Linked DNA regions of Homo sapiens: all the other regions are linked to region 3. Evidence: fine-mapped expression QTL. A gene starts in region 3. Each other region holds a variant in brackets. All regions are shown on one strand. Distances are between the middles of the regions. Region 1 has its middle 91 kb from the start of LINC01972. Region 2 overlaps XXYLT1 (xyloside xylosyltransferase 1). Region 3 holds the start of FAM43A (family with sequence similarity 43 member A).

Region 1 (4,239 bases), 170 kb before region 3:
GAGTAGCAGGGCAGTGAGTATGCCTATGGGACTCAGCCCTAATGCATCTGGGCTAGGGGCAGACCAGTGGGGCAGGAAGAAAGGGCCTCAGAGGATGTCACAAGGAATGATACAGATTTCTCCTTGAGACAAGCCATCACTTGGGACAAAGCTTCTGCTCTAGACTGCTGTCTTAGCTCTTTTGCTCTCCAAGTTTTGGTCCAAGGTACGAATGATAATATCACATCTCTACTACGTGCTGTACAACTTTCGAGGTGGCTTATGCATGTAATGTCATTTAAACCCCACAGCAACCTCATGATGCAGGCATGAGTATCTTCACTTTGTGAAGAGGGAGCTGGGCTCACACTCGTCAAGCCCTTTGGCACTTTCCGTGCAGAGCCAGGCTCCTGCTGCAGACTTGACTCTCTGCAGTGCCGGAGCTTCCTCCTCCAGCCCACAGTGCCTCCGAACGCATCCTAGACATTGAGCATCTTGAGGGCTGAGGCCGTGTCTCACTCACCTCTGTAGCTCCCAGAGCCCAGAATTGTGAGGAATGCATCGCTCATTTATTTATTCATCCAAAATAAATATGTACTGAGCACTAATTAAGTTCCAGGACCTGTGCTGTAGGGTCATTAAATATTTGACAGATGAAAGAGGGGAGGGAGGGAGAAAAGGGGAAAACAGCCTAGGAGGCAGCTGGATGTACAGTGGGGCCCCAGGGCTGTATGGGAGGTGGGCAGTGCGGTGGGGCGGGAGGAGTCCTTGGCTGGGACTCACTCCCTGGCACACTGGCTTGCTGAATGTCTTTGCCTCTCCGGGCCTCATTTTTTACAGAACTTTCCAGTGCTCCTCAGGCGATTTTTTGACAAGTGATTTTGAAAGCTCCATTGACTGAGCAAATCATGTGGTCTGTCCATGCCTTTCACTTGTGTCGCCTTGCCATGGTTCGGATGAGTCCTGCTGAGAAGGAATTTCTTCCTGAGGAATGAATATCTTTTGAAGATTAATTCACACATGAAGTTTGCTTTTTATTATCTTTTTATTTATTTATTTATTTTTTTGAGGCAGGGTCTCACTCCTGTCACGCAGGCTGGAGTACAGTGGTGCAATCTCGGCCCACTGCAGCCTCAACTTCCCAGGGTCAGGTGATCCTCCCACCTCAGCCTCCTGAGTAGCTGGGACTACAGGTGCACACCACCATGCCCACCTAATTTTTGTGTTTTTTGTAGAGATGGGTTTTGCCATGTTTCCCAGGCTGGTCTTAAGCTCTTGGGTTCAAGTAATCTACCTGCCTTGGCCTCCCAAAGTGCTGGGATTACAGGCTTGAGCCACCATGCCTGGCTGAAGCTTGCTTTTTACATGGAGCACTTGCTGTATGCAAGACACGAATCCATCAAAAGTTGATTGACTGATTGGTGGGAGTAGTAGAAAAGAATTGGAACTCAAAATGTAAAATTCTGGGTGCTAGTCCTCACTCAGCAATAAGTTGCTGTGTGACTCTGAGCAAGTTACTTCTTTCTCTGGGCCTTAGAAATGGTGATAATTAAATCAGCTCGGTCAACGTCTGGAAGGGGGCAAGGGCTGTTGGCGTTTTTAAAAAGTTTCTTGGGCGATTCAGATGTGCAACCAGGATTGAGAACCACTCGTTTACATGTCTTTCTTCCTGTGTAACTGTTGAGGCTAGAAACCGGGAGTCCAAGGCTTCAAGACTCCCAGCACAAATGTCTGAACTATAGGAAATATGAGAAATGGGTTTGTTATTGTTATTACTAATAAAATAATCATGGAGGAAGATAAACAGCAAATGGAAGATGATATAGTTTGCATATTTTTGTCTCCAAATTTCATGTTGAAATTTGATCCCCGTTGTTGAAGATGGGGCCTACTGGGAGGTGTGATGGGGGCGGATCCCTCATGAAAGGCTTGGTGCCATCCTTCTGGTAATGTGTGGGTTCTTGCTCTATTCGTTTCCAAAAGAAGTGATTGTTAGGAAATGCCTGGCACCTGCCTCCTCTGTCTTTTTCCTCCTCTCTTGCCATGTGGAGCCTGCACCCCTTTGCCTTCCCCCATAAGTGGAAGCAGCCTGAGGCCTCACCAGATGCAG[A/C]TGCTGGCGCCATGCTTCTTGTACAGCCTGCAGAACCATGGTCCAAATAAACCTCTTTCTGTTGTAAATTACCTAGCCTCAGGTATTCCTTTATAGCAACACAAATGGACTCATACAGTAGGTTTAGGAGAAGAAAGAGGAGGAAGAGAAGAATCAGCAACCCACACAGAATATTCCAACATTGGAGGAATCATTACTATCTTCATCTAATCTCTCGACTTCAGTTTCCCAACTGTTAAAAAAAAAAAGGAGACTATCTAATTCCTAGTAAATGGGCTCCATAAATAAATAGCCTCGATTTGTAGCATCTGCACATTACCCTGGTGTAAATACTCCCACCATGGTTGACTTTCACTTATGAATGGTTTGACAATGGCTCAAAAGAACCCTGGATCCTTAGGAACGGCTTTCCTAAACCTGCGCTGGCCAGCTCCAGCAGAGCAGAATAGGGGAATCAGTGAGTTAAACATATACCAAGTGCTTGGGACAGTGCCGGCCTCATAGGAAGCACTCAATAAATACGAGTTGTTACCATTATCATTATGGGTATTAATAATGTTTTCATTATGGTTATCGATAATGTTATTAATGGTTATTAGTCATGTTATTTTCTTTCATCTTATTTTGCTAATAGAACTCTTTGTGTCTAACAGGACCAGAGAAGCCGAAAGATAGGATTTTTTTTCAGTGAAAGGATTTTTTTTCAGTGTTTCAAGTAGAAACTGGGTAGCTCCTGACACCTAGGCAGACTTCTTATGCAATCTGCTTTATAACCAGGGTCATTTAACAGAAAGAGATTACATTTATGATAGTTCAGAGTTTATGAAGCACTGCCATGGCTTTTTGCTTTTTCTCCTCGTTTGATACCTGCAACAATTCAATGAGATAGGCAGGAATCCTCATGTTGCAGAAAAAAAAATAAGGTTCAGAGAGATTGTAACTTATCAGGATCACAGGGCTTCTGCCAGTGGCAGAGCTGGTTCTCAAAAAAGTCCAGTGGGGCTGGGTGCAGTGGCTCACACCTGTAATCCCAGCACTTTGGGAGGCCAAGGAGGGTGGATCACAAGGTCAGGAGATTGAGACCATCCTGGCTAACACAGTGAAACCCCGTCTCTACTAAAAATACAAAAAATTAGCCGGGCGTGGTGGCATGCACCTGTAGTCCCAGCTACTTGGTAGGCTGAGGCAGGAGAATTGCTTGAACCAGGGAGGCGGAGGTTGCAGTGAGCCAAGATCGTGCCACTGCACTCCAGCCTGGCGACAGAGCGAGACTCCATCTCACAAAAAAAAAAAAAAAAAAAAAAAAGCCCAGTGTTCTCCCCATCTATTTTAGCTCCAACTTAATTTCCAAGAGGCATTTATGTGGGACACACAATTTCCCTGACCAGGGACCCCACCAGACATGGAGAGAGAGGGAGAGAAGAAATGAGGCAGGCGATGACCTCATTTACTCTAAACAAAAGCCCTGAACACTCACTGCATGCAGGATCTTAAAATAAATATAGTTAATTCGGCCTAAATACCTTCAGTGAACATTTTCAGGGAAGGGATCTCCAGAGGGAAAACTTACTAATTCATGATAAGGTTAAAGTGGACCCATCTCTCGCTTTTAGTGTGAGCTTGAGTTACTACGATAATTAGGTTTGGCAGTGAGGGTATTAAGCTGTGTAGTGCAAGAAGTCCTGTTATTTGTAAAACACCAAGTGCGGTTTAATGGAATGCGTATGTGTGAGTGCATATTCAGGACAGGCTGGGGAAGACTCCAGCGACACTATGGAGCTGAGAGTCTGTGAAGTTGGGTAGCTACCAGGCCTCCCCAAATGTAGTTCTTGGGCTGAAAGTCTCTCCTTACTGAAGAGGCAATGGTTCCATCTCTAAGGAATGCAACACACTCCGTCTTGTGTTCTGCGGATTAGCAAGAAGGGGTGTCTGGAGAAGATGCACACGCGTTATCTTTATGATGTTTTCAATATGCCATTGATCCTGCAATGCATCACATGCCTAGAGTGGGCTCCCTCAGATGGGAGGGGGGTTGATTCTCCTACCTTTCCTTCCCAGTCCTCTGGTAACTTAGGTTGGGTGCTTGGGAGAGGACTCAGAAGGCACATGAGGCTTTTGGTGGCTGTGAACAGCCATGCGGTGCAAAGGGC
Region 2 (4,239 bases), 430 kb before region 3:
AAAGCGATTGCTTTTTCACTTAGTTTCGTCTGATTGACGAAAGCTTGTCACAAGCTTGACAGAGGTTCAGGGAATGTGGGCAAAGCCGCGCTGCCTTCTACATCAAGTGCTGTTCATTTGGGTCATTAGGATTTCATGTCTGGTCCTGGTCTTCGTAATTAAACGTGTAAAGAGATGTCCTCCCAGCACTGTCATGAGCAGGAACTTTTTAGTAGAAATGTACTTGTTGATGACATGGTTGTATAATGTGATTGTGGGTGTAGGGGGACAGATGTGTTTCAAGTGCTAGAGAAATGACAATGATTTGGGTCTCATGGGACCCAGGCACAGGACCGTACACAGAGCAGGTGCTCAAAATGGCTTATTTAGTACATGGAGTGAAATGAAAAGAAGCTCAACGCAGGTGGAAGGTGATGCTCCGTGTCTCCCGGCTCTCCAGGCAGTAGTCATTCCTTGGCCCCTCAGATCCTCCATTTTGGGTGCAATGGTGTGGCTGTACTTTGTGGAGAAACAAATTTGGGCAGCTGAGTTCAGGGCTTCACGTGGAGGAGCGAGAAGGGGGCCACCCAATGCAGCTTTCCCTGGAAGCGTGTGGACTGGGGCACAGTTGTTGCAGGATGATTGGCTGCCACCATAAGTGGGCAAAATCATGGGCAGATCATCCTGCTTCCTTAATTGAATCTTGGAATGCATTCAGAATCTTCAACCCAGGGGTCTGGCACTCAAGGCGTTTGTGACCTGGCACTGACTCAGTACGCTCTAGCCAAATTGGGCACTCATGGCTCCCAGATGCTGTGCCAAGCTTTCACCTGCTTATCTTTGCTTGCACTGTTCCTGCCACCTGGAGGGACTTCTCTTCACCCATCTCTACCTTGAGAAATCCTCTCTGTCATTCATGGCCAACTCAGACACCCCTTCTTCATAGCATTCTTTGCCCGCCGGCCTCAGGAGCACCCTCTGGCACTATCAGAATGCCCAGGGCTCCTTTCCACCCTTTTCTCCTGGCCACAACCCTTTCTCCTGGCCACACCCCTTTCCGCCTCTTTGCCTGGTCCTGTGGGTGCTGTGCAGGCTCCCTCAGCCAAGCTCGGCATTCCCAGGCCTGGCTCCGAGTAGGTGTTTGTGGAATGAATGGCTAAAAAGTAAAGCAAAAAGCTCATGAAACAGAGGGGAAATCCAAAACTGATTAAAGAGAAAAAGGATTCTAACAAAAAAGACCGTGAGTGCTGGGTTCACACTGCCTGGGTTCAGGTCCTGGCTCCACTATTTAATAGCCCTGTGACCTTGGACAAACCAGTAAACCGCTTTGTGCCTCAGTTTCCCCCTATGTTAAGGATAAGCGTACTACCTAATCAGGGATGTTCTGAGAATTAAGATTCTTGAAAACATGTCAGCTTCTTGGAACGGTGCCTGCCTCGTAGTAAGTGTTAATATACGTTAGTGCACCACTCCCCTCCCAAGCTTTCCCAACTCCCTGGCTTGTCGAAGATAGTGTCAGAAACTGGCGTTTTTCCGAGCTCCCGCCAGATGTTCACCTCCGTTTCCATCCTGCAGTTGCGGCGAAATCAGTGGGAGATGTTTTCCTGAGGCGGCTCCATCCTTACTGTGGAAGGGAGAAAAGACGGGAAGGTCCACGGACCAAGGAGTGGCTCTTGCCAGGCTCTGTGCGAGGGCTCCTCATATGAAATGCTGTTTAATCTTCACACAGCCTCTGGGTATGGATTAATGTTCCTATCTGGGAGGAAGCTGAAGCTCAAAGAAGAGCAACAGCTTGCCTGGGATGGCACGGCGAGTGAGGGGCATGGCTGCAGTTGAAACCCAGATTGGATTTTGAAACCCATGTTCTCTTGACTGCTTCATCCAGCTGTTCCCACCACCTGGGGCTGGAGGCTGGGGGCTGCGTGTATGTGCGCACATGTGTGCATGCATGTGTGTGCATGCGTGTGGGTGTGTGTGCGTGTGTGCGCTGCTTCAGCTGTTCCCACCACCTGGGGCTGGGAGCTGCGTGTGTGCATGGGTGTGTGTGTGTGCATGCGCGCACTGCTTCAGCTGTTCCTACCACCCGGGGCTGGGAGCTGCGTGTGTGCATACGTGTGTGTGTGCACTGCTTCATCCAACTATTCCCACCACCCGGGGCTGGGAGCTGCGTGTGTGCATGGGGGTGTGTGTGTGCACATGTGTGCGTGTGTGTGCATGCGTGTGTGTGTGTGCGTGCGTGTGTGTGCACTGCTTCATCTAGCTGTTCCCACCTGGGGCTGGGGGCTCTGTGTGTGTGTGTGGGTGTGTGTGGGTGTGTGCATGTGTCCATGCGTGTGTGCATGTGTGTGGGTGTGCACATGCGTGTGGGTGTGCGTGCGTGTGTGTGCATGTGTGTGTGTGCGCGCACGTGCGCACGTGCAGTCCTTGCTGGGGTGGGTGGGCTCGATGGCCCTGCCCCGAGTTGCCTCAGAACTGAGCAGAGTGGATCAGTGTGGACAGATCTTCTGGGGCTTGCGAACCCCAAAGCATCAGCGAAACCCGTGTTTGCCCAGTGTTCAGCCATGGCAGC[C/T]CACAGAACCTGACCCGGATTCCAGTAGGCTTTTGCCCAGGTGTCGCTGAGATGTCAGCAAGCCTCAGTTTCCTAGTTCATGGGCCCTCCTGACGGCTAGAAATGGTCTCGTGGGTTTTAAGAATAATTATAACTATCTTGTCCTCACTTAAGCTGATTTGGTATATACCAATGTACTGATTGATATTAGCACCCGTCTCATTTGCACATTTCTGCAGCGATAGTAATGCCAAGTAAACTGTAGAAGAAATGAGTTCCTGAGGCATTTACAGGCAATCAGGATGTTCACTTTGCATGTAGAGCAGGCACGCGCTATTTGAATCAAGCTTCCACGATTGGGGCGAGCAAATGATCTTGTATTTACATATTTTTCCGAAGGCCACTTTACCTCAATTTTAAATCTTTAAGTTGAGTTCCTATTTTTGAAAATTCTGTTTTGTTGTAACTGAGGTAATCCAGCCTCAAGGCCCTGTGAAGACAGCTTATGTTAGAAGTCTGTCTGTTAATCTTACCACGTTGAAGACAGTGGAATTCTGTGAGAAAAGATAGGCTTCACGAGTCAGTACCAGTGGTAGATGGGTGGGCCAGTGATAGTATAATACTCGTTCAGCTTGGTCACAATCAGCGTGTCCTTTACCTGCTGCTTACAGACGTTCACAGTGACAGATGCTCCCGTCATGAGAGACACTGAGCACCATCAGACACCTGCCCCTGGAGCGCCATCCTAGCCAGAGAGATACACACAGGCCCAGCCCACTCAGCCCAGCCAGACCCTCTCCGCCACCTCCTTTCCCCTTGCTCCCCATCCAGCCTCTCTCCCCATCTCCCCTCTCTGCTATGGATTGAATGTGTTCCTCAGAAATTCATACGCTGAAGCCCTAACCACCACTCCCTCAGAATGTGACCTTATTTGGAATAGGGTCGTTGCAGATGTCATTTGTTAAGATGAGGTCCTCATGGTCGAGCCTAATCCAGTATGACTGGTGTTCTTATAAAAAGAGGAATTTGGGCACAGACACACACACACAGGGAGAACATCACGTAAAGGAGAAGTCAGATCACGGCTTTGCTTCTGCGTGCTAAGGAATAGCAAAGATTGCCAGCGAACCACCAGAAGCTAGGGGAGCGGCCTGGAACAGGCTCGGCCTCGCAGCCCTCAGAGGGATCCAGCCCTGCCGACCCATGATCTCAGACTTCTAGCCTCCAGGACTGCGGACAATCAGTGTCTGCTGTTTAAGCAAACCGGTTTGTACTTTGTCGTGGCAGCCCTAGAAAATAAATATCACCCTGCCCCCACCCACATACACATACCTCACACACACCACACACACACACCACACACCTCACCCACACACACGCACACATACACCACACACCACACACACACTTATACAACACACACAACACACCACACACACACTTATACACCACACACACGCACACATACACCACATACACTTATACACCACACACACACCACACACACTTATACACCACACACATGCACACATACAGCACACACACACACACCACACACACCACACACATGCACACATACAGCACACACACACATACACCACACACAACACACCACACACACTTATACATCACACACCACACACACACCACACACATGCACACATACAGCACACACACACATACACCACACAACACACCACATACATACACCA
Region 3 (4,239 bases):
CTCCTCAGGCCCCAGCTGCCCCACAAACAGGAAACTGGCCAGGCACCTACGGCCTGAGACTAGGAACTTCAGCCAACCTTCCCTCACCCGCATCCCAGAGGGGTGCCTCTCTCTCCCTCCTGGCGGGGTTTTCCCCTCTCAAATCTCCCCGCATCCCCACGCGCAACAGAGCCAAAAGTGCTGGGGCGGGAGCGGGGGCCGGGAGGTAGGGGAAAGCGGTCGGGGGAACGCTGGACCTGGGCTCCAAGTGTAGGTCTGGGCCCCAAATGCCCCATTTCCCCCTTCCTGGGGGCGGGCAAGGGACAGGGAGGTTGTCGGGACCACGGATGGGTAGCCACGGTGGAGCGCCGGCGACGCGCGGAGGAGCTCAGCCCGAGTGGGGCTCGTCTGCACTGGCGCCGTCGGCCTGGCGGGACGAGTCCCCGGCGGTGGCGGAGGTGGCGTCAGGGCCCCCGCCCTCGATGGAGCTCTCGCTGCCCGTGCTGTCGCCTGACAGCAGGCGCGTCACCCGCAAGTCGGCCTGCAGGGTGCGCACGTCGTTGCCGAAGCTGAGCTCGCCCAGGTCGCTAATAAGTTGCGACAGCTCAGCCTTCATGTCGGAGGCGCTGCCCAGCAGCAGAGGCGGCGGCCCGGCCCCCGGGCCCAGGGAGCCCCCGCCGCCTCCTAGCGCCTCCCCACGGCCATTCTCCAGAGTATCCAACAAGTCCCCGCACTCAAAGTGCATGGCGACCACTAGCGCACGCTGCGCCTCGGCCTCCTCCTCTGCTGGATCTCCCTCTGCCGCACGGTTCTCCTCCTCCTCCGGGCAGCCCTCGGGTTGCTCCTCTTCCTCTTCCTCCTGCAGCTCCTGCTCCAGCTGTTCGCCGAGCAGGTCCTCGGTGATGGAGCCAAGCTTGGGCGCGCTGCGGCTGCGCTCCACCGGCGGTTTATAGCAGCAGGGTCCGTGTAGGAGCAGCTTGCGCAGCGGCACTAGCGGGATGGTGTGTGCGCCCACCAGCTCCTGCTGCTGGTGACGCGCGTCGTCCCGCCGCTTGAGGCGTTTAAATTCCGCCAGCGCGTTGGCCGACGTCTGGTAGAGCAGCAGGGCCATGGCCTGCGCCTTTTCGGGCTTGGACACCAGCACGGCGTGGCAGCGCAGCATCACGGCCTTGTGCTTCAGCTCGTGCCGGTACACCCAGGCGAAGACCTTGGGCAGCCGCGCGTCGGCCACGCAGTAGGTGACGCGGTGCAGCAGGTAGAGGTGGCCCGGGCGGCGCAGCGCGCGCTCCTCGGCGTGCACCATGCGGATACCCTGCGCACTCACCGTCAGCTTCATCTTGGTGCCCTGACGGCCCGCCTCGCTCTTGCTCCAGATCTTGCCCACAGCAAGGTCGGTGCAGCCGTCGCCGCGCGCCTGGATGGTGGTGGCATTGCCCAGGTAGAGCACGGTGTAAGTTGGGTCCTCGCTAGTGATGTGCAGCTTCTTGCGCTTGGAGCGGAACATGCTGCCCACCCGGCTAAGCGCGCCTTCGGGGCACGCCCGCGCCAGCGAGCTGAGCGCCGAGTAGTGCAGGCTCACAGCGTAGCCCTTGGGCTTGGACGCCTGCCGCGGCGGCGCCTCGGCCAGCAGCTCGAACTTGTGCTTCTTCCACGGCAGCATCTCCGGAGGGCGCCCCGGCGCAGCTGGGCGGCGGCGGCGGCGGAGCGCCGGGTGCGAGGCCCGCTGAGCCACCGGCCCCTGCCAGGCTCGGCCCGGGCAAGATCGAAGAATAAAACTACTGGGAGCGGCCCTGTGGTAGGGAGTTGGGGGGAGGGGAGCAGAGAGAGTGCTTAGGAACCCCGCAGGAGGTGCGGGTAAATTCTCTAAAAAAGAAAATATTCAGCTTCGAGTGTGCAAAAAAGGTTGGTGCGGGGGAGACACGCGCGCACACAGAATTACCCCAGCCTGGGCAAGGGCGAGAGCAAAGAGTCTCAGGCAAGCAACAAAATGCAAGGGAGAAAGAACGAGCGTAGAGTGGAAAATGTCAGGAAAAAAGCTAGAAGCGCGCGTGCAAATAAAGAGAGCCCCAGCAACAGCACCCGGGATGGTGCAAGAATATGCAGGAACTCCTCGGCGAACGTGAGGTGGGTCCCCTAACACACACAACCCTCAGGACTGGGGCCAAAACCCGCGGAAACTCTACAGCGAGTGTGCCTAGGGGCCGGTGCTCCCCACCTCCGAGGGGTGCTGGAGATGGAAAGCCCCCCGTTTGGGCTGGTCTCAAGTCAGCAGCTCGCCCAAAGTGCGGTCGGATGCTGGGTCCGGCTGGCCGCGGCGGGCCCCGCGCAGCAGTCCCGCGGGGACTCACTGCATCTTCGCTCCGCCGGACGCCGGGGACTCGCGCTCGGCCCGCTCAGTGTCCGGGCTGGCCTGGCCGAGACGGCGCTGGGCTCCGAGAACAGGGGACGGGCATGGCCGGGTCCGGGAACCGCCGCTACCTCATTTCTTCCCTCCGAGGCGGTGTCCAGCTCCGCTCCCGGGCTCTCCACGGTCTGCTGCCCGCCTTTGCAGTGCGCCCTCTCCGGTGCTGCGAGCGGCGTCCGGCTCGCCTGCCTCACATCCTTGCCGTCCGGGAGGAAGATCTCGGGTAAATATAGGCCGGCGCGAACCATTCGCCGCGCGGGGACAGGGGAGGAGCAGAGAAGAGGATCTGTTTTGGGCTCCGACTCCGGGCGGATTCCTGGTTTCTTAAAGGGACCGCGTGACAGCCATTGGTCGAGGGAGCGGGGAGACCGGTCCAATCCTCCAATTACATCCCAAATTTACCAGCATCTCTTTTGTCTATGGAAATCACTGGGACCTGGGGTTACCCCGCAGCAAAAAGATTTGAATCCTGACACTCCACCCCCCAGGCTGAATTGCCACTCACTGAATACATGTATGTCTAGATCGAAACTTCTGAGGGAGGTGGCAGAAGATGAGATTACAGATTATAATTTCCTGTACAAAAAGTTTGGGAAAATAGTGGTTTCTTCCTTGTGTGACGGCTTTCTGAGAATGACTGGGTGCTGTTTAATATTATTTTCAGAATTGTATTCCATTAAAGAAAAGAGAGAGGCACAGAAAACACCAAGGCTTATCTCTCACTATCTTGAGCTCGTATTCACAGGTAAGCAGCAGACAGTGTAAAGTGAGGTGAGTGGTAACATGATTGGGGTGACTACTGTAGAATACCGTCAATGAATAAGGCTTTTCCCCGTCCGAACCCCGGCAAGACCCCCTCCTGCTGTCAGGCCTCAGGGTAGAGCAGTTTTCTGAGATACACACAATTTCTAATGCTCGTGTGTCGTTAGGACTTAGTTTACTTTGGCAAGCCGGTCATGCGGTTTCATTCTATCATTGACATATTTTGGATGAGAATTCCTAGTAAAAATTCAAATGACGTTTTTTATTTAAGTGACAAATAATGCCAGGCCACCCTCCAATGGGAGTGATAATTGCATCAGTATTGCTTTTATCATGTGCCAACTGGACAGTGTAGTTGTCTTCTGACCGGCTTGACCCTTAGCCAGTAACTCATTTCTGGGCCCTTGAAACAGCCTGCTTGCCTCTATGGTATGGTCAGTCAAAGCAAAAAGACGTATGGCTGGAGTGGGATCAATGTCCGAATGATCCTGCATCAAACTCCCAGCCTGGTCCTGGAGGAGGACAGTGATCCCTTCCCACCATCCCAGTCCCCTGGGGATCTTTGATGTCTCTGGCTTCCACGCCAGGTCTTCATGCCAGAGTCACTGCAACCATACCTGGAAATTCCCTTGGGATATTCCAACAAAATAAAACTGACCCCTGCCCACCCTCTACCTTTGCCAACTTTTAACCTTCCTTTGAAATCTAACTCAATTTTCTCAGAGTCGTTGATGCTGAGTTTCCATTTAAGTTACTTTGCTGAGTTTCCATTTAAGTTACTTTTCTGACTACCTTTTGGTGCCCGGCCCTGAGCTAGGAGCAGACGGGATTCCTGCCTCCTAGTCCAATGAAGGTTGTAAACTCTACCCAACTCTGGGTTTCCACTGGACTGTGGGTTCTCTGCAAGTACCCTGTATCCCCAATATGGTACAAATAGGCACTCAGTAACTAGAATTAATGAGCAAGATATGCATGTGGACAAGAAGACAGAGTGGGCTAAATGCTATGAGAAAGACTCAAAGCACTATGAGAAGCTGGAGGAAGAAAGCATTCATTGTGACTAGGAAAATCAGAAAAGGCTTCATGGAGGTGGT

What was found. PIP is the estimated chance that this variant, and not a neighbour inherited with it, causes the effect.
Region 1: its variant is the best candidate, but not a certain one, in a credible set for the expression of FAM43A in whole blood (INTERVAL, PIP 0.73).
Region 2: its variant is the best candidate, but not a certain one, in a credible set for the expression of FAM43A in whole blood (INTERVAL, PIP 0.54).

Annotation. Positions count from the first base shown.
Region 1 is chr3:194,857,223-194,861,461 of GRCh38, reverse strand. No RefSeq gene overlaps it. Among named protein-coding and RNA genes, the nearest start is that of LINC01972, 91 kb to the right of the region's middle. The variant A/C (reference allele first, on the strand shown) is at 2,090.
Region 2 is chr3:195,110,555-195,114,793 of GRCh38, reverse strand. All of the region lies in intron 3 of XXYLT1 (xyloside xylosyltransferase 1), which reads left to right. Among named protein-coding and RNA genes, the nearest start is that of XXYLT1-AS1, 18 kb to the right of the region's middle. The variant C/T (reference allele first, on the strand shown) is at 2,549.
Region 3 is chr3:194,684,227-194,688,465 of GRCh38, reverse strand. FAM43A (family with sequence similarity 43 member A) reads right to left here and starts at 2,583. Exons shown (of 1, transcript NM_153690.5): 1 at 1-2,583. The coding sequence starts at 1,639. The coding sequence ends at 368. It overlaps LOC124909474, which reads left to right and starts at 1,557. Exons shown (of 3, transcript XM_047449428.1): 1 at 1,557-2,606; 2 at 3,048-3,128. The coding sequence starts at 2,213. RefSeq lists silencers at 434-733, 1,564-1,753 and enhancers at 733-1,236, 1,237-1,742, 2,494-2,853.